Linked DNA regions of Homo sapiens: region 1 is linked to region 2. Evidence: fine-mapped expression QTL. A gene starts in region 2. The other region holds a variant in brackets. All regions are shown on one strand. Distances are from middle to middle. Region 1 overlaps MDN1 (midasin AAA ATPase 1). Region 2 holds the start of LYRM2 (LYR motif containing 2).

Region 1 (13,455 bases), 88 kb before region 2:
TTTTTAAAATATTCTTTGATATTCATACTTTAGAGATAAATGTCTACTGTTGTTGACTTAAGACGTTTTATAAAGTACTCTGCTCAATTTAATTGGGATTACTTTGAATCTATATATACTACTTAAGTATTTTCTTTATTTAGAGACAAATATTATCTGATAGGAAATTGTGATAATTAGAATATTCAACTTGATTCATGAAACAAAATTTGTGAACCCCCTAATTTGCTGAATTCTGATTGCTGAATAGATGTAAAAAAAAAGAAAAAAGAAAAAAACTTGAATGCATGCCATTGAAAAGATGACATTCTTTATTGCATTAAATGGAAAAAATAAATTTATTTAAAATACAAGTAAAATTATAAGATATAACAAAATTTGCATATTTTCTAAAATAATTATAATAGAAGTTCAAAACTGTGTCCGAACTCAAATCAAATGAATATTTCTTTGAGCAGTTTTCAGGTCAGTATCTAAAACTATAACTCCCAAGGTTTTGTTTTGTTCTTTGGATAGGGATGGACTGCTATTGATGAATCCTTTCAGAATTTGATCAAAGCTGCAGGCTGCTTTTGTTAGAAACAGCATTTATGTACATTCATTCACAGAACTTTGCTTAGAAGGAGCAGAGACCCCTTTTAGGCCATTTGTGTGCCCCTGGTTATGAACTTTTGTTCTGGGATCTCCCGTTAACAGCAAATGCTTTTTTTGTTTCTTGTGTTTAGGGTCTGACATACCTGAAGTGATGCTGGATTTCATTGACTGGCTGACCCACCAAGAGTTTGGCAGAAAGTGTGTGGTCAGTATCAGAGATATCCTGTCCTGGGTTAACTTCATGAACAAAATGGGGGAGGAAGCTGCTTTGAAAAGGCCAGAGATCATCTCCACTGTGACATCTTTTGTCCATGCTGCATGCCTGGTGTACATAGATGGAATAGGTTCAGGTATGTTGTCTGGTAGCTGGTGGGGACAAGGGGCTCGTATAGAGGGGCATAGGAAAAGGAGCAAGCCCAGGCCTCTGACCCAGCTATTTTACTGAATCACTTCTCAGAACATTTCTAAAACTCAGAATGGCTTTCCTTTTGTTTGTACTCTTTGAAAGGTGATTGGCACACAGGATACACTGCAACTTCTCAAAGCTGGTAGACCAGGTACTTAACAAACATGAAGTGGTGATTATGAGTAGAGTAAAGACTGCTGAAATGTCTTTGCTTCTGAAGCACTGGCTTTTTTTTTTTTTTTTAAATTAAGTTCTGGGATACATGTGTTAGGAATAATGCTTAAAATTGTAAAGAAATTGAACACTTAAACAAAGGGTTTTTAGCAAAGCAATTTTATTTTTGTGCAGAGGGGTGTTTTTTTGGCCAGTTGCCATGAGAGTACACTTGAACAAAGGGCACGAGAGCCTTTATTTTTGATGCAAGTTTTGTTTTTGTATTTTTCTTTTATTGGCCGGGGTTGGGTTGTATAATTTAAACTCATTTTGGTTGGCTAGACATTTGAATTTTTTTAGATAAGGTGGACATGTTAAAGAAAGTGGAGAGGAAGGGGGAGGGGTGTTTGTAATGAGTTAGAAAGTTAGTTTTTTTTTTTTAAATAAGGAAAGGAATGTGAGCTGGTATTGATAACGCCTGGTATTGTGGCATGCCTGGGCATTTAACAAAGGAAAAAAGGAGAAAAAGGAAAAGGTGGGGGGGGGGGGCGGTACTATGAATTAAAGAATAAAAGATTGATCAGATTATTTGAAGAGAAACCGAATATGCGGGTTTGTTACATAAGTATACATGTGCCATGGTGGTTTGCCGCACCCATCAACCCGTCATCTAGGTTTTAAGCTCCTCATGCATTAGGTATTTGTCCTAATGCTCTCCCTCCCCTTGCCCCCCATCCCCTGACAGGCCCCAGTATGTGATGTTCCCCTCCCTGTGTCCATGTGTTCTCATTGTTCAACTCCCACTTATGAGTGAGAACATGTGGTGTTTGGTTTTCTGTTCCTGTGTTAGTTTGCTGAGGATGATGGTTTCCAGCCTCATCCATGACCCTGCAAAGAACATGCACTTATTTTTTATGGCTGCGTAGTATTCCATGCTGTATATGTGCCACATTTTCTTTATCCAGTCTATCATTGATGGACATTCGGGTTGGTTCCAAGTCTTTGCTATTGTGAATAGAAGCACTGGCCAATGTTTAACATGAGTAGTAATTTTTTGATAATGGGCCTGAATATTTTAAGTTTATTTTAATGTCATAAAAATCACTGTGGTTTTTCAGCCATGAAGATTTGAAATATAAATAAAAATGGTTACTAGTGCCATATTAGGTACTGTATGTAGGCTGATTTATCACTGAGTGACTAGAGTGCTTTACTGAATGATCTGCTGCTTAATTGATAATCCATAGATTGTGGGGGATGCGTGTTGGACTTCTTTCTTAGGACTGCTTACACTAGAAATCACATTTAGGCTGCAGTTTTGCTGAGGCCTCTTTTTTCCGGGAACCTGTGCTAGAGCTCCTGCTTAATGGTGGTGAAGCTTGGTGTTGTACTGTTGCTTCATGGACTGATCCTCTGTCTTTTAGGGGTAACTTCCTCTGGGTTTGGTACAGCCCTTTTGGCACGAAAAGAATGTCTGAAATTTCTAATCAAGAGGCTTGCCAAGATAGTACGACTTACAGAATATCAGAAAAATGAGTTGAAGATTTATGACAGAATGAAGGCCAAAGAATTCACTGGAATAGATAACCTTTGGGGAATTCATCCATTTTTTATACCAAGGGGTAAGAATGATTTTTAAAAAATGAATTTTCCTTTTCTATAGATCATAGATACTTGGCTTTTATTGTGACTTAGTTTTAATGTGTAATACTCATGATTATATTTGCACTAACTGAGTTAGATTCTGACTTGAGAATAACCATAATTGTGTGAATGGTTGAAAATACCTGACTGGCATGTAAAAATAGAGGGAAATAGAGACTTCAATCTATAAATAGATTGTCTTATACAGTGCTTATTTTTTTATTAGTTGGTTCCCACATTAGGAACTTTCCTATAGTAAAGCTCTAAACTCTACTAATGTTGACAATAAACTTTTAAGTGGCTTGCAAAGACCTATTTAGCCTATAATGTATCTTAACTATACAACCTCATCATCTTTTACAGAAACAGGTTTTGTGAACCCTTGAAGGCTGGTAATGTGTCATTCCTGATCCGGTCCCTGGCATCTGACATTTAGGCCTCACAGTCATAGGCACTCAGAAAATTTCTGATGGATGAGTGAATGATTAAATGGGAAATGCAGTAGTCTAGGAGATAGTGGGTTTGTGTTCTAATTCTTTCTCTCTTTCTATCTAACTAGATTGTCTCTACCAAGTATTTAAATGAGGCAGTTAGATTAGCTACTTCTAAGGTGCTTCTACTTTTTCAGGATGTTGTTTCTGTAGCAGAGTCATCTGTTTCTTGTCCCTCCGCCCTCTCTATGTTAATGATTGATGAATGCCTGAAGTATATGGAGTTGCAGTGGCAATTACTGGGGTTTCAGTGGTGAACATAACCAGTCCAGGTTCCATTGCCCTTGCCCCTGTCCTCAGAGCTCCATCTCTCCTTAGCAGTATTCTCTCTTCATCCCTGATGGGCTGTATAATCTAACCATCAAATCCCTTCTCTAAGCCACCATCATAGGACTCAGTGCTCCTGTGTAGGAGATACATGCTAGTGGCCTAGAACTGGGGTGGTCCTTGCTTCTGCTACCAAGGGTGAGGTAATAAATGTTTTCCTAGCCTCACTCCCTTCAAACTGGTGTACAAAAAAAAAAAAAAAAAAAAACGAAAACAAAACAAAAACTTCTTCCAAGAGACAGTGGCACAAATGTTAAATATTACAAGACTGTTATTAGTCCTGCATATCAGTTAACTTACAGGTTAAGGACACAGTGTGAATTGTTTTGGTGGCCAAAAACATTGGATGAAGTTGATTATGTGGAACCATGTGGCCCATATGCCTAGCTTACACTTGGTTTTTAGGAAAGTAACTATGAAGGTAAATTGTACAAGTACATACAGTGATTCAGGGTGTAGGTTGTGAAAGGACAGGTGTGTGTTTGCATGTACATGTATGTGTATAGGAGATGGAGAGATCTGTGTAGTAGGCACTGTTGAAGAAAACGTGTTATTGGATATTCCTTTAAAGCATTTTATGGATCTAAAAGTGGGGAAATATTGAAATAGGGATTGAACATTTTCACTGCAAATGGTATTTCACTAACTGATAACCCATGTGGTAGATTTTTAAAATCTTGAGTTGATGCATACATGTGATTTGATGATGTCCCGCTTATACATGACTTTACTTTTCTCCACTTAAGGACCTGTCCTACACAGGAATAATATTGCAGACTATGCACTCAGTGCAGGGACCACTGCTATGAATGCACAGAGGCTCTTAAGAGCTACCAAACTGAAGAAGCCCATTCTCCTGGAGGGTTCCCCTGGTGTTGGCAAGACAAGTTTGGTGGGAGCATTAGCAAAGGCTTCAGGAAATACCCTTGTTAGAATCAACTTATCAGAGCAAACGGTAAGCTCGGTCATCCTACAGCTGATGGAGATAGCTATAGATAGTAATGTCTGTGTCAATTTATATTTGCCTAATCAGAAATGATTACATTATCAGTATCCTCAAATTTTTCTTTTCTTTTCTTTTCTTTGTTTTTTTGAGACAGAGTCTCGTTCTGTTGCCCAGGCTGGAGTGCAGTGGGGTGCAATTCTCCTGCCTCAGTCTCCCTAATCACTGGGATTACAGGTGCCCGCCACCACACCTAGCTAATTTTTGTATTATTATTAGAGACAGGGTTTCACCATGTTGGCCAGGCTGGTCTCAAACTCCTTATGTCAAGTGATCCACCTGCCTTGGCCTCCCAAAGTGTTGGGATTACAGGCGTAAGCCATGGCGCCTGGCCTGTATCCTCAGATATTTCATATCATAATAAAGCCCACAGCAACATGACCTTCCAAACTAAATCTTCTTTGGATTTGTTAATTGCTGACACCTATAATATTAATTCTCTCTGGATGCTTTATTCTAATTCTCTTTCGAGAGAGAATTATCCACTTTGGTATTTATTGTAATATAACCCCAGTTAATTTTTTGCTTAAATTTTTTTTTAAAAAGTGGTAGAAATAAAATGACTTTTAACAATCTAAGGAAAATATGGTACAGATGACAAATTGAATGAGAATCCTTTGGAATAGGATTTTGTTTTCTTTTTTTTTTAAGCCTGTCAATTAAATTCCAAGTACAGCCAATGTTGAGAACTGTTAATCTAGAGCACCAGCTCAAATTGATTGATATATGGAACATGTTGGGAAAGTTCTTGGGGGCATGTTTGGGCTCCTGGTAAAGAGAGCTGGGATTGGTTAGTTCTATCTTGGGTGTAGGAAGGAAGAGTAGTGGTGCCAGCCCCAAGTATTTATCATTTCAGATTTAGGGTGTTAGAATCCAGTTGATTTTTAAAGTAATAATGGCTTCTTTCCATTTCTTCCCCTTTCAAAGGACATCACAGACCTGTTTGGAGCAGATCTACCTGTTGAAGGTGGCAAGGGAGGAGAGTTTGCCTGGCGTGATGGCCCCTTACTGGCAGCTTTGAAGGCAGGCCATTGGGTGGTGTTGGATGAGGTGAGGGGCCTGTTTGTCATGCCCAAGACGGTGATCATGTGTGTGAGGAGCAGTCATCCTTTCACAGCTCCATTTCACAATCCATTTCTCAGTGGAAGATCCCGCTGATGACTTTTCTCTAATGAAAAGATCCTCTGTAGTTTTCTTTAAGAATGAGGAAGGTCACTTGGCAGAATACACAAAAAGAGGCCCTTGTACATAAAACCTACAAACTCTCCCACTGTTTAAAGTTATCCTTCAGAGGAAAACTGCATCGTCACTAGTTTAGTCTCTGACAGGCTTGCCGTTTCTGCATTTATTTTAGAGGCATTTTATAAATAGCGTCAACCGCTTCATGTTTTATTAGTGCACCGGAGAGACTAAGGAAAGACATACAAAATGACCTAC[T/C]GAAATGAGGAAACGATCCGTTATGTGTGCATATGGGGTAAATTATTCATCAGAAGAAAGAGCAGAGTATGAGACATGATAAATACTGAATCTCTGACAACTAGAGATATGGAGCTGGGTCAGTTTGGGGTGTACAATATTCAGGAAAAGGCTAGAAATATTTGTGGAGCTGAAATGATTAGAGTGATGTACGTGTCACAGGTGAGACTTTGGACACAGGCTGCAACAGGTCCCCCAGGTTCAGACTCCTGGGTCTGATCATCAGAGAGGGTGCTGTGGGACTCCTGTCTGCTGAGCTGCTTTCTGCCTTTTATTCTTGGGATAACAAGGAGAGGGAATTTTTTTCCATTTTTCAGATTTTTTTTTGAACAAGATGTCTGATAGAATATATATTAGCCAGGAAAAGAGAAAGCCTAGTTTTAAAGCTGAAGGCTACTGACCATACTTAGTATTTAGTGGAATTGCATATTTAGTGGAATTGCATTCAGGGACGACAAGACATTCTAGATTTATAAACACATTTAAGAGCGGCCTTCTGTTTGGGAATATACAGAAGTGTTTGTGCTTTGTGGTGCTTGTGTAAACATGACACTTGAAATTCTAATGTAGTGTGCTCTGATTTTTGCCTGTTTGCATTTTAATAACTTGTATTTTCCCGATCTCCTTTTTCTATGTTACCAACAAACCACACATGCTTCACATCCCTGAGCTCTGAACTACTCATCTGAAGACCTACATTCAGCTCTTTTCATCCTGGCACAAGAGCCCCTTGTAATTGTTCTTATTTACAAAATTGGTGGAAATCAGCTGTATTAACTCACTTTATATCCTGACTTTGAAACCCGTTGGAGATTTTGTTCAGTGTTTGAGATGGGAAAGTATTTAAAGAGTTAACAAACCTTATCTATTCTCTACAATTAGTGTTACATGTCTTTTTCTTTTTCTTTTCTTTTTTTTTTTTTTCTATTTTTCTTTTTTTTTTTAGGCAGAGTCTCAGTCTGCCGCCCAGGCTGGAGTGCAGTGGTGGGTTCTCGGCTCATTGTAACCTCCTCCTCCCAGGTTCAACTGAATCGTGAATCTCCTGCCTCAGCCACCTGAGTAGCTGGGATTACAGTCATGCACCACAATGTCTAAGTTTTGTATTTTTAGTAGAGACAAGGTTTCGCTATGTTGGCCCGCCTGGTCTTGAACTCCTGGCCTCAAGTGATCCACCTGCCTCGGCCTTCCAAAGTGTTGGGATTACAGGCATGAGCCACCACTCCTGGCTAATTTGTGTTACACATCTTAAAAACTCAGATTGTGAAAATGAAATATCTGTGTATTGGCAAGTTTTTCTGCAAGTTATTACTTACAGAGCAGGTTAATATAGGTTATATGTAATGGATACAGTTTAACTTTTGAGAAGATTCTTAACTTTAAAATTTAATTTGAGCATTTATTCAGTTTAAAGATTATTAATATATGTGTGTATATATACGTGTGTGTGTGTGTGTGTGTGTGTGTGTGTGTGTGTGTATAAAATACCAGACAAAATCTCTAACATACATGGGAAATAAAGAATAATAGAATTGGACCAGGTACAGTGGCTTATGCCTGTAATTCTAACATTGGGAAGCTAAGGTTGGAGAATTACTTGAGCCCGGGAGTTTGAGACCATCCTGGACAACATAACAAGACCTTGGCTCTACCAAAAAAAAAAAAAAAAGAATTAGCTGGATGTGGTGGTGCACACCTGTGGTCACAGCTATGCAGCAGGCTGAGATGGGAGGATCTCTTGAGCCCTGGAGGTAGAGGTTGCAGTGAGCTGTGATTGTGCCACTGCACTGCAGCCTGAGTGACAGAGTGAAACCCTGTCTCAAAAACAAAAGCATAATAGAATGAAGACAAACCAACCATAACTCAGCCAAAAATACAGAAGGTTATCAATATTGTTTGAAATTCCCTTTCTGAAGATAACTCTAGCTTTATTTGCTGCATATTATTCCCCTGCTTTTTGTTGCAGTTGTATAATATATTTGAGACAAATTATGTACTTTCTTCTTTAAATAGCTTAACCTGGCTTCTCAGTCTGTATTGGAAGGACTCAATGCTTGTTTTGACCACCGAGGAGAAATCTATGTGCCTGAGTTAGGAATGAGCTTTCAAGTGCAGCATGAAAAGACGAAGATTTTTGGGTGTCAGAATCCCTTTAGACAAGGAGGTGGGAGGAAAGGCTTGCCCAGGTCTTTCCTTAACAGATTCACTCAGGTAAGATTTGCTGTTGCCATAGAGACCAAAGATAGACTCGGAGGGGATAAGACTACTATTATGAAGCCTTTAAGGATATTCACTATGAGAATTAGAGAGGATCAGCTTAATGATCCTCTTTCTTGTCCTTATATGATCAATATTAATGTGACTGATTCCCATCATTGCTTCTGTCCTTCATCTTTTGCCCTGGAAGACTAGATGTGTTATCAGCTGGAAGAAAGTAAGGTCCCCAGCCTTTTCAGGATTCTGTGACTGCACTCTGGGATGAAGTCCAATCTTGGACCTTTTCAATTGTCCCTCTGATCTGTTGAAATATATAAGAAAAATTTTTATTGAAAATAATGCATTTTAACTAAAGAAAAGAAAGAACAGAAAACTACTATGAAGAATAAAAATCCACTATTCCCCAGTCAGTCATTATTAACATTTTGGTATCTTATGCCTTTATTCTTACTTGCAGAGGGGTACCTGTGTATGTGTATGCTTACTTGTTTTAACATCAGTTTTTCAGAGTTTGGCCAATCCAGAGGTTTGGAAATGTCTCTAGATTTCTTTAGTGTCACTGTCTCTTATGATTAAGAATTGGCTGAGTATCTTTTAAGAATGTTTTATTGGCTGGGCATGGTGGATCATGCCTGTAATCCCAGCACTTTGGGAGGCCAAGGCAGGTGAATCACCTGAGGTCAGGAGTTCGAGACCAGTCTGGCCAATATGGCGAAACCCCGTCTCTATTAAAAATACAAAAATTAGCTGGGTGTGGTGGCAGGTGCCTGTAATCCCAGCTACTGAGGAGGCTGAGGCAGCAGAATCTCTTGAACCCGGGAGGCGGAGGTTGCAGTGAGCTGAGATCGCGCCATTGTACTCCAGCCTTGGCAACAGAATGAGACTCCATCTTAAAAAAAGAAGAATGTTTTATTGAGAAAACTTTCAAACATATGGAAAAATTGGATGACTTTTATAGTGAATACTCGTATCTACCACCCAGATTTAAAAGCATTTTACATTATACATAGGAAATTTTTAATAACATGTATCTTTTTTTTTTCTTTTTTTGAGATGGAATCTTGCTCTGTCGCCCAGGCTGGAGTGCAGTGGCGTGATCTTGGCTCACTGCAATCTCCTCCTCCTGGGAGCAAGCAATTCTCCTGCCTCAGCCTCCTGAGTAGCTGAGACTACAGGCGCATGCCACTATGCCCAGCTAATTTTTGTATTTTTAGTGAAGACAGGGTTTCGTCATGCTGGTCAGGATGGTCTTGATCTCTTGACCTCATGATCCACCTGCCTTGGCCTCCCAAAGTGCTGGGATTACAGGTGTGAGCCACCGCACTGGGCCTCTTTTTTCTTTAATTCACTAGAATAGACCTTAAAAACAAAACCTCTACTCAGCTGTATTTAGAAGATTTTATGATTCTTTATTCTCAAAACACAAAAAAAGAAATTTCTATAACTGAAAATTATATTTCTCATGTATTGTTACTTGGTATTAAAGATTTTGCATAATAAGACATGGTAGTCATTTCTAGTGTTTGGTAAAGAGAAACAAAGGCATTTCTTCATATTATTTTTGGATTTCTAGGTCTTCGTTGATCCCCTTACAGTAATTGACATGGAGTTCATTGCCAGTACTTTGTTTCCAGCCATTGAGAAAAATATTGTTAAGAAAATGGTTGCTTTCAATAACCAAGTAAGTACCTACACGTATTGGTTTCTTTTTTTTTCTGGCTGTATTTGAACCAGTATTTTTTCAACATAGAGTTCTACCAAATTATCAGGATCTCTAACTAAAAAAAATTACTTTGAATTCTACAGGTTTCTAGTGGAAGGGACACTATGTAGTGGAGGCTTCCAGTAATTCATTTCTGTATTGTGACTACCAGTGTTAATGCTTAGAGGATAAGCCAGGCATTTGGAAGTCTTGAGAAAGAGGCTCTGAATCAAGCCTGTTAATTTTTGTTTCAGATTACATATGCTTTTGTAGTACATTCCTAGTACTTAATGCAGTGCCTAGTAGTAAGCAGGGCATGTTTCCCAATCAGGATGTTTTCTTTCTAGATTGATCATGAAGTGACTGTTGAGAAGAAATGGGGGCAAAAAGGAGGACCCTGGGAATTCAACCTCCGGGACCTTTTCCGCTGGTGTCAGTTGATGCTGGTTGACCAGTCCCCTGGGTGTTATGATCCTGGTCAGCATGTGTTTTTGGTCTATGGTGAAAGAATGAGAACCGAAGAGGACAAAAAAAAGGTGAGTTTCACGCTTGGTATTTGTATTTCTTTCCATCTGAAAGTTGATTTCCTGTGGGTGAGAAAGGACATACACTAATTGCAAGCCTTTTTTTTTTTTTTTTTTTTTGAGACTGGGTTTCACTCTTGTTGCCCAGGCTGGAGTGCAATGGCATAATCTTGGCTTGCTGCAGCTTCACCTCCCAGGTTCAAGTGATTCTCCTGCCTTAGCCTCCCAAGTAGCTGGGATTACAGGCATAAGCCACCAGTTCCGGCTAATTTTTTGTATTTAGTAGAAACGGGGTTTCACCATATTGGTCAGGCAGATCTCTACTCCTGAATTCAGATGATCCACCTGTCTCAGCCTCCCAAAGTGCTGGGATTACAGGCGTGAGCCACCACGCCCGGCTAGCAAGCCTGTTAAAGCTGCTTCAAAATTTAAAAGTTAAAAGAACAGACTAAACGTTCTCCTACCTTGGGGTCTCACAATATAGAGTAGCTTGCTTTAGAGGACATAATTTGCTTATCTATCCAAATCCCCATGATCACATACCTTAAAGCAGTATTGCCCTCCAGTAGTAAAGAACTAAGTCTTCACCATCTTTACAGGCACCAAGGTGAGAAGCAGGAGGAGGCAGACAGGTGATACTCCGTAGAAGAGGAAGTTTTTCTGTTTTGTTTTGTTTTTAAATAAATGTCAAATTACAAAGCATTTTGTCTAGAAAGTATAATCGTATAAAGAGAGAATATTCTGTGTTTAAGTGAAAATAAAAATACCTGTTTGTAAAACTAGAATTCCCACTGTAAGGAATTGTAATAACGTGTGCATTTTAGTTTGTGGTATTTAAAATCCTGTCTCGCTGAATGCTCACAGTAGCTATAGGCAGGAGGTGCTGTCATGGCATCTTACAGGTGAAGATCCAAGGCTTAAAGTTATGGAGTGTCACAGGTAGCAGAGCCAGCTTTCCAGTTTAGGCCCTCTCCAGTTTGTCTGCTGTTTCCTTCTAGTAAACTTCACTGTTTGAAAATAAATGAATAGATACATAGATGCATGCACTAGAAGCAGTAACCTCCTTGTTGAAATGTGAACATGTGGCTGGCCCATAGCACATGTGACTTTCACAGCCCTTTCATTCTGCTACCCATTCTGTTTGTTCTTATTTTTTTTCTTTTTTTGGATTGCAAAAATTTATTAAAATTGGAGACATTGTTTTAATCTTCTTGTGCCATGAGACTCCATCAGGCGGTCTACAAAGACCATTGGGAGGCTGAGGATCACTTGAGCCCAGAAGTTTGAGGCTGTAGTAAGCTTCAAAGGCCGCTGCACTCCAGCTTGGGTGAGGCAAGACCCTTTCAAGCAGTAAGCTGCATGCTTGCTTGTTGTGGTCATTAAAAACCCTAGTTTAGGATAACAGGTCTGCCTGCATTTCTTCAAGCATGAATTCTGAGTTCTTTGCTTCTTTAAAACTTGCTCCACACAGGGTAGTCAAGCCAACTCTCCATACCTTTAAAAGGTATGACAGGAACTGTCTTCATGTCCTTACCCAAGCAAGCCATCCACGGATAAAAACGTTACCAGGAGCAGAACCGTTAAGCTGGTCCAGACAAGTTGGACTCCACCATTTCAACTTCAGCTTTCTGTCTAATGCCTGTGTGCCAATGGCTTGAGTTAGGCTTGCTCTTTAGGACCTGGGAAGAAACAATTCAGTAGCTATTCTCATCCCTCCTTTGGGACAGAACTGTCCATAAGGTGCTATCCAGAGCCACACTGCATCTGCACCCAGCACCATACCTCACAGGAGTCGACTCCTACCTCGAAAAGCTGTTCTTATTTTTTTTGAGGCAGGGTCTGACTTTGTTGCCTAGGCTGGAATGCAGTGGCACAATGCCGGCTTAATGTAGCCTTGACCTCCTGGGCTCAAGGGATCTTCCCACCCCAGCCCACTGATAAGCTGGGACTATAGGCACATGCCACCAAGGCATGGCTAATTTGTTTTTACTTTTAATAGAGATGTGGTCTTGCCGTGTTGTCCAGGCTGGTCTTGTACTCCTGGGCTCAAGCAATCTTCCTGCCTCAGTCTCCCAAAGTGCTGTGATTACAAATGGAGTGAGCCACTGTGCCCGGCCACCCAGAGCTTCTTTAGTGTGGTATTCAGAATCTAATTACACACTAACTCATTTATCATACGTAGGTGACTTTCAATCATTTGATTAGGAGAAAGTCTTAGTAGTTTTTAACAGCTTTATTGATATATAATTCACATAATCAGCTAGTATTTTAATTTCTTCATCCACTTATAGTATATTAATTATGACCAAAACACATGCCAGTTGTTGAATGATTGATTAGTCAGGTGCTGGGTCATTGTGGTATGTGGAAGTTTTCCATCACTCTTCCAATTCAAGGTTATTGTAATGGACCTTATAGGTGTTTTCTAGCGGGGGAGACAAGGTCAAGAAAAATAATGTTATAGAAGGATAAAGTCTGTAAAAGCTAGAAGAGTCCAGTTGAATGGAATTTTGATTTTATAAAGCTAAACCAAAGAGCTAGATTGGGAATTTTTTTTTTTTTTTTTTGAGATGGAGTCTTGCTCTGTCGCCCAGGCTGGAGTACAGTGGCGTGATCTTGGCTCACTGCAACCTGGGTTCAAGTGATTCTCCTGGCTCAGCCTCCCGAGTAGCAATATTTGTAATTTTAACCCTCTGGTAGAACATCAGGGGTTGGAGATTATATACTTTAGTGTGGAACATGAGGTCATGTATCACCTGGACTCATAGGTAGGTGACAGGAACACTTTCCTATGCTGCTTTTAGTCTCACAGTCCAATGTTTGACACTGATTATGATTTTATCTATATTATTTTTATTTTTTAACTTCATTGTAGTATTCAATTATGTAAGTATTGCTGCTTTTTAGAAATACTATTTTGT
Region 2 (8,000 bases):
GACTCTTCTTAATGGAAGATGACAGGATTGTAAAAGGTATGCTAGGGGACTGATCTTCTCTGCTGGATCAGTCAGTCAGCTGTTACTAGTTGATGCTGTGCTAACATGATCCCCTCCTACTTCCATGTTGCTCTTACTACAAAGGTTATCATTTGCATTTATGTCCATGGTAGGCTGAGCTATAATATGCTGGCTTTGCAGCAGAATGAAAAGGATGAGTTGGTGTAGCCTTATAAGGAGGCTTATAAAAATTAATTATCCTCCATAAATGATGATGTTGCATCCCACTCACATTTCATTGGCTAAAGCCCTCTATGGGGCAGGGAGTTTAATCTTCCAGTAGGGTTGAGTCTGGGAGGGAAAGACACCAATATTATGACAATGCTGCAGTCTATTACATCTGCCTTTGGAAGCTCCATCTTTCTTAGACCTCAAACTGGTGTGCCCAGAGTGATTCCCTTGGCCCTGGGTTAGCTCATGAGATCATGGACAGTAGGAATTCCAGGAAGCAGGAACCCAAGAGTGCCATTTTCAACTTGTGCTGCCAACAGGGGCTTGCAGGAGTAGTGATCAATTAATCTGCCATGTTGATAGTTGACATTTGTGCTATCCTGCCCACCCCCCCCTCCCCCAACCCCCCAGGCCTTGGCCAAATAGGTAAGTAAGTAAGTTCTGATATTTAAGGAATGGACAGCAGAACACAAAAGTCCTCCATGCTGTCTTAAAAATCTCACTTTGGGGCTGGGTGCAGTGGCTCACGCCTATAATCCCAGCACTTTGGGAGGCCAAGGTGGGTGGATCACTTAAGGTTAGGAGTTAGTTTGAGACCAGGCTGGCCCATATGGTGAAACCCCATCTCTACTAAAAATACAGAAAATTAGCTGGGTGTGGTGACGCGCACCTGTAATCCCAAGCTACTTGGGAGGCTGAGGCAGGAGAACTGCTTGAACCAGGAGGTGGAGGTTGCAGTGAACTGAGATTGTGCCACTGCACTCCAGCCTGGGCAACAGAGCAAGACTCTATCTCAACAACAACAATAAAATCTCACTTTGGATAACTTCTTCACCACTCCCGTGGCCTCCACCATCACTGAAGCAAAAGGACTGTAAAATTCTCCATCCAGGGGTCCAGGAAATCTACTCTTTGGTATTCTTAATTATATTCAGACATCTGCTGGATGTCACTGTGTTCTAATTCCCCTATTCCAAACCCATTCCTTCAACATTCCCCATCTGGGATGACCACTCCAACAGCCACCCTGTTTACAAACTTGGGACTTAACCTATACATCTGCTTTACTTCCTTCTCCATCTCTATCCATACCCCAATCAAATTAATTAATCATCTTGTCCAGTCAGGCTTCTGGATATCCTGTCCCATCCCTCCCCCTCCCCCTACTGCACTGTGACTGGGACTCTTTTAATCTCTAGCAGGGACTACTTCAATGGTATCCTGGCCAGGCCAGTAACTTCTCTTTGCTTGCTTCACTTCATCCTATTCACAACATCCAAGATCTTTCTAAAAGTTCTGTAGCTGAAAATCCCTTCAAAGCTCTCCCTTGTGAAGAGGGTAATATTCAAGCTTCTTCATGTGACCTGTGAGGCTCTTGCTTGACTCTCCTGTCCCTCCTCTCCCAGCATTCCTGCCAGTGTTTCCATGTGTTGTCTGGAATCCTCTTAGTGATTCTGCGTTTCTGACAAATACCTAGCTCAGACAAGCCCTCCAGGAAGAATAATTTCCCACAGTATGAACTGCAGCATTCTTTGTTAGCACTATATTGAACTTAGAGGTTTTCCTGCCCAAAGCATGAGTCTTTGAGCAAGGAGCATATGTGACTCACGACAGCATTACCAGTGTCTAGCAAGAGTGAGCCCTTTTTTTTTTTTTTTTTTTTTTTTAAATAGAGCTTTGCTCTTGTTGCCCAGGCTGGAGTGCAATGGCGCAATCTCGGCTCACTGCAACCTCCGTCTCCCAGGTTCAAGCGATTCTCCTGCCTGAGCCTCCCAAGTAGCTGGGACCACAGGCGTGCGCCACCAGGCCCGGCTAATTTTTTGTATTTTAGTAGAGACGAGGTTTCACCATGTTGGCCAGGCTGGTCTCGAACTCCTGACCTCAGGTGATCCACCTCGGTATCCCAAAGTGTTGGGATTATAGGCATGAGCCACCGCACCTGGCCTGAGTGTTTCTTGATGGGAAGAAGAAATAATGTAAAAATGTCTTTCTCACATATTAATGTATAGATTCAACACTACTTCAAAATTCCAACCAAGATCACAAGATGATTTGGAGGGAAATGATACAAAACATTTCTAAAGATTATAGAGAACAGTACTAATGGATTTTTTACAAGAAACTAGAGTCCTGCCAGATAATAAAAACATATAAAACAAAAAGTAAAAACTTAACCCTAAATGAAACAATTCTGGACAGATTACTCAGACCCTAAAAGAATTTATCATACAGTCAAAAAGGCATCCATCATAAAGCCCCGAAAAAGGAATGAGTTATGTAATCAATGGTATTGATACAGCTTAACATCTAGAAAAGAACTTAGATCCACGTGATGCTGTAAACCAAAGTAAATTCTAGATGGAGTAAATATTTTAAAAATTAAAGTTTTTAAAAAACGAATTACAAAGGCCTGAATGGGAAATGAAAAGCCTCAAAAGGCACAAAAATACATGATTGTATAAAGTTTCTGTATGTATAAAGAAATGACAAAAAATATAGAGCCCATATAAATGTCCTCATCATAAACGGACCCAAGTCATGAACAATTCACAAAAACAGTATAACTAAAAATGGCGAGGGGTATTTAACTTCACTCCTTTTAAAAAGTTAGCAATTAACTATTACAGCTAATGTATTAGACAAAATTTGGCATATATTATTGATAATATGATCATGCAGTTAGCATCATTCATACAATGCCTGGTAAAGTTCAAAAGAGCTAATGATTAGAGTTCTTACATGTGCCAGGACCTGTTCTCAGTACATTAGAGATACACAACTGAGGTAGATGCTATATTTCACTTTACAGGGGAGGTAATAGGCCAGGAGAGGGGAAATAGCCAGAACACAGCTAGGAATAGGGAGCCCCAGGATGCTAACAGGCGAGGCAAGCAAGTCCCCAGTAAACTAGTAATTGAACATTTTTCGTTCTATTTTAATTCGATACAACACCACTTGGAAAATTAATATGGCAAAGATTCGCTAACTCCACTTCTAGTGATTTAACCCAAAGGCATGTGTATTGTGGGAAAGATAAAACAACTATAAGGAAATAAAAGCAAAAGCCTGAGGCTTAGGGATGTTAGGCTCCTCGTTATTAGTGATGAAAAGTGCTTAAGACTGAAGTGGGTGAGCCATTCAAAGCTTTGTTTCAAATGATCATGAAGGCCACCGCTCCCGGAAAACCTTTGCGCTACAAAAGAACAGGACAAAAACGAGAAAGAGAAAAAACCAACACAAACTGTAAAAGAAATTAACACTTTCAATTTTAGTATTTTCAACTATACACATTTTTAAAGGCTCGAAAGAACATTTAAATACGTTTTCACCTCTTTCCCCCAAAAAAACCTTAACTTTTTTTTCGAGACAGGGTCTCGCTCTGTCGCCCAGGATGGAGTGCAGTGGTGCGATCTCGGATCACTGCAACCTTCACTTCTCGGGTTCAAGCGATTCTCCTGCCTCAGCATCCCGAGGAGCTGGGATTACAGGCACCTTACAGGCCTCCCAGAGTGCTTGGGACTGCAGGTGAGAGCCACCGCGCCCGGCCTCCTTCACTTTCATTTGAACTCTCTTTACCAGGAACTGTGTTAAGTGCCCTACCTTTCTTCTTTATCAAAACGACCCTATGGTGCACTGTTATCCTATTTTACCGACGAGAAAACTTCGGCCAGCGCAGCAGCTAGGGCTCAGTCCCGAAGCCTCGCGCTCTCAGTCCGAGAGCAACCCGCGGGCCGTCTCCTAGGAAACCGGGCTCGCCACACCCCTTGGTCGAACCCCACTTCCGCTCCTGCGCGCTGAGGCTCCGGCGGACCTCTGGTGGACATGGCTGCTTCCCGCTTACCCCCAGCGACGCTAACGTTAAAGCAGGTACCGGCGGTTCTCTGCCTTCCAAAGCAGCTTACCTGGGTCTGAGCTGGATTCTCCATCTGTCCCTATCCCCAACGGGGCGGGTTCCGGGGTCCTGATGCGGCGTGCGCGCCCTCTGAGATTGGCCCGATGCCTGCGGGGCGGTGCTTCGCTCCGCGGGGCCTGACGGGAGGCACTGGCTGCTTCCTTGGTTTGGTGCGATCGCGTGAGACAGCGTCAGGCGCTTGATTTCCCTGAGTCCCGGTGCCTCAGCTGCCCAGTGCCCACGGTAAAAGTCTATTGCACTGAGCTGTGGCAAACAGCAAATGAGATTACCAAAGATTTGAACAACTGTTAATTTAGAAAAAGTGCTGTCGTTGTAATAACAACTTCTAGGAGACCGGCAGCCCTTTTCAGCCCGGTAGGCAGCTCCTGATTTTTTAATGGTTCTTAGGTTTGACAGAGCAGTAAGCAAAAAGATCAGATGAACCTCGTGATGCTTTCTTTAAAACATCTTTTTGAGACAGGGCCTCACTCTCGCCCAGGCTGAGTGCAGTAGCGCAATGAAGGCTTACCTCAGCTTAGACCTCCTGGGCTCAAGTGATCCTCCCATCTTGGCCTCCCAAAGTGCTGGGATTACAGGCCTGAGCCACTGCATCTGGCCAAAAAAAGAAAAAAAAAAGTTTTTCTTTGCCTTTTTCAAAATTGACCAACGAGAAGTACTCTGGTTACAGCTTGGTTTGCTGAAGTAGAACTTTCCAGGCTGGCGATTGTGCAGTAGTAATTGCTATTTACTCCTCCCTTTTACAGTTCGTAAGAAGGCAACAAGTTCTTCTCCTCTACAGAAGGATTTTGCAAACAATTCGGCAAGTTCCAAATGATTCTGATCGCAAATACCTGAAAGATTGGGCAAGAGAAGAATTCAGAAGAAACAAAAGTGCCACCGAAGAGGTGAGAACAAAATCATGGTGAGGACAGATCCTAACCCTTTTTATTGATCAGTGAATTTTTTTTTTTAAGTTTAGCAGACATCTTGGAATATAGTGCCACTGAGCTGGTATATCTTGATCATTGCTTGTAATGTTACCGATTTTAAATTATTATTTTAAAATTTAGTATTTTAAAATATGTAGATAAAAGAGTATCTACACTCTTCAGCATCATCACTTGACTTTTATGTTGTACATTTTATATGTATGTATGTGGAACTCTTTTAGCTTTTCTAAAAGGCAGCAGTTCCAATAGGTAGTATTGGTTCTTGATTTTAACAGATAAAATGGTATAGCTATACCTTGTTTAACCAGGTAAAACTATAACCAGATTTCACTTTATTCTACAGGATACAATCCGGATGATGATTACTCAAGGCAATATGCAGCTCAAGGAGTTAGAAAAAACACTTGCTTTAGCAAAATCTTAACTATAGCATTATTCTGAAGGATTTTCAAAGTCTCCATGTGTTTTGTTGCATTTAGGATTAACAATGGACAACACAAAGCCCAGTCTTACTATTTATATGTACAGTATTTGGTGATAGAGAGCAAAGGAAAAACACATCAGAACAGTTGCCTTAACACTGAAAAACATACCCTGCATTTTGAAAATGTTTATGGATGTCTCAGCAGTTCTTAAAAGAAGAAAAAAACCACTAACAAATGGCCAGTAGATGCTGGACACAATCATTAGGGAAGTGTAAATCAAAACTACTATGAGGTCGGGTGTAGTGGCTCATGCTTGTAATCCCAGTACTTTAGGAGGCTGTGGTAGGTGGATCACTTGAGGTCAGGAGTTCAAGACCAGCCTGGCCAGCATGGTGAAACCTCATCTCTACTAAAAATACAAAAATTAGCTTGGTGTGGTGGTGCATTGCCTGTAGTCCCAGCTACTTGGGAGGCTGAGGCAGGAGAATCACTTGAACCCAGGAAGTGGAGGTTGCAGTGAGCTGAGGTCGTGCCACTGCACTTCAGCCTGGGTGACAGAGTGAGACAGTCTCTAAAAAAAAAAAAAAAAAACAACCCTGAGATTCACATTCACTAGAATGGCTGTAATTAAAAAGAGAAATAATAATAAGTCTTGGTGAAGATGTACAGAAATTACAGAACCCTCATACATTGCTGGTGGGAATGTAAAATGGTGTAGCCACTTCAGAAAACAGACGGTCAGTTCCTCAAAAGATGAAACAGCTGCTGTATGAGTTAGCACTTCTACCCCATGCCCATAGCCATTATTTGGCACTAAAAAGAAACGAAGGACTTATATATACTAAACATGGATAAACCTTGAAAACGTTAAGTGAAAGAAGCCGGTCACAAAAGATCACATGATGATTCCATTCATACGAAATGTCCAGAATAGGCAGAAAGATTAGTGGTTGCCTAGGCTGGCTGTAGATGGAATGGAGTAACTGCTAATGGGTGTAGGGTTCCTTTTCAGGGTGATGAAAATATCCTACAGTTAGCTTGTGGTGTAGGCTGCACAACTCTTGAATATATTCAAATCCACTGAACTGTACATTTTAAATGTAAGGTATGAATTGTATCTCAATAAAGCTGTTATTAAAAAACTCTTGAGGTGTAGGACTGAAAGTATACTGACACCAGGAGATACCCTGGAACTTTCTCGAAAAATCCTGCATTATCCCTGAGGGTTGTTCAGGTACGTTCTTCAGATGTGTCATAGTTTGATAGAGAACTCATCAAAAAGATCACCACTGGGAATCTAGATCTTTGTTGAAAAGGGAAGAGAAAGAGAAGCTTAATGAGCACATTGAAGCACTTACCAGAAAGAAGAGGGAAGACTTCTGGATGAAACCTCTGTGAGTACCTTAACATTCACATGGAAGTAGTAAAAATAAGATTCTGGGTGCAGTTCTCCAATGACAGGAAAAAAAACAAAGAGAATTTGAAGAATACGTCAGAGACAAATACATTACAACCAAAATTGACTTCAAGGCACTTTTGAAGGAGATCAAATTTATAACAAAATAATTTAGTGAAAGTGAAAGCTTGTGGAAGATGTTGGAATCATCCATCCTGAAAATTGAAGTCTTCTGTTTATCAACAGAACAGCTAAGAAGCTAATCTAAGAATGACCAGCACCTGAAAGATGTAGACAACATTTTGCAGAATGATAAATGGTATCCAGTACTGGACTGTGTCTGAGAGGCATCAACTGAATGTGGATGTTAATGACCTGGACTGTCAGGGTCCACCTCTACCTCCCAGAGCCTCAGAGCCCACAAGACAAAATAATTCTGAATACTGTTCCATGGGGGTAATCTACTAATTCAAAATGCCTGCCTGTGCCAATTTTCAGGTTTTTATGTAGATAAGTATTAGTTAACCTGTTGCAAAATGATCTGACAAACAGAAGCATTTGTGACGTTTCTGAACAGAGAACACTTTGGAAATATTTTTTGTGTGACATGATTGATAGATACATGCTATCTCTAGTAAATCTAAAATCTTGAAACTCAAAATCATCCTTTTATGGGTGTAGAAGTCAGTGATTTAATGATGCTCTTCCTAACAGTGGTGTGCATGGAAAGGTTTTCATTAAAGAGCGTATGTGGTTTGCATTTGCAAGATTCAACTAGCACAGACTCCAAGAAAACCTAAGTTTTTTTGTTTTTTAAAGCAGGTAAGGCCGGGCACTGTGGCTTACACAAGTAATCCACACACTTTGGGAGGCTGAGGTGGGTGGATCACTTTAGGTCAGGATTTCGAGACTAGCTAGGCCACTAGCTAGCCTAACCTGGTGGCACGTGCCTGTAATTCCAGCTACTCAGGAGGGCTGCCTCATATTGAACCCGGGAGGCAGAGGCTGCAGTGAGCCGAGAACACACTACTGCACTACAGCCTGGGCGAAAGAGTGAGACTCTTGTCTCAAAAAAAATAAAAAAGTGCCATCAAGTTAGAAGTTTT

The links. PIP is the estimated chance that this variant, and not a neighbour inherited with it, causes the effect.
Region 1: its variant is fine-mapped to the expression of LYRM2 in whole blood (TOPMed, PIP above 0.99).

Annotation. Positions count from the first base shown.
Region 1 is chr6:89,720,046-89,733,500 of GRCh38, reverse strand. It overlaps MDN1 (midasin AAA ATPase 1), which reads left to right. Exons shown (of 102, transcript NM_014611.3): 34 at 726-944; 35 at 2,578-2,775; 36 at 4,362-4,570; 37 at 5,546-5,668; 38 at 8,105-8,302; 39 at 9,882-9,989; 40 at 10,358-10,546. Among named protein-coding and RNA genes, the nearest start is that of LYRM2, 88 kb to the right of the region's middle. RefSeq lists an enhancer at 11,838-12,339. The variant T/C (reference allele first, on the strand shown) is at 6,056.
Region 2 is chr6:89,634,770-89,642,769 of GRCh38, reverse strand. LYRM2 (LYR motif containing 2) reads left to right here and starts at 4,023. Exons shown (of 3, transcript NM_020466.5): 1 at 4,023-4,098; 2 at 4,888-5,028; 3 at 5,417-8,000. The coding sequence starts at 4,054. The coding sequence ends at 5,497. MDN1 (midasin AAA ATPase 1) reads left to right here. Exons shown (of 102, transcript NM_014611.3): 102 at 1-272. It overlaps MDN1-AS1 (MDN1 antisense RNA 1), which reads right to left and starts at 4,238. Exons shown (of 4, transcript NR_111915.1): 1 at 4,134-4,238. RefSeq lists enhancers at 4,224-4,273, 4,494-4,723, 4,076-5,275.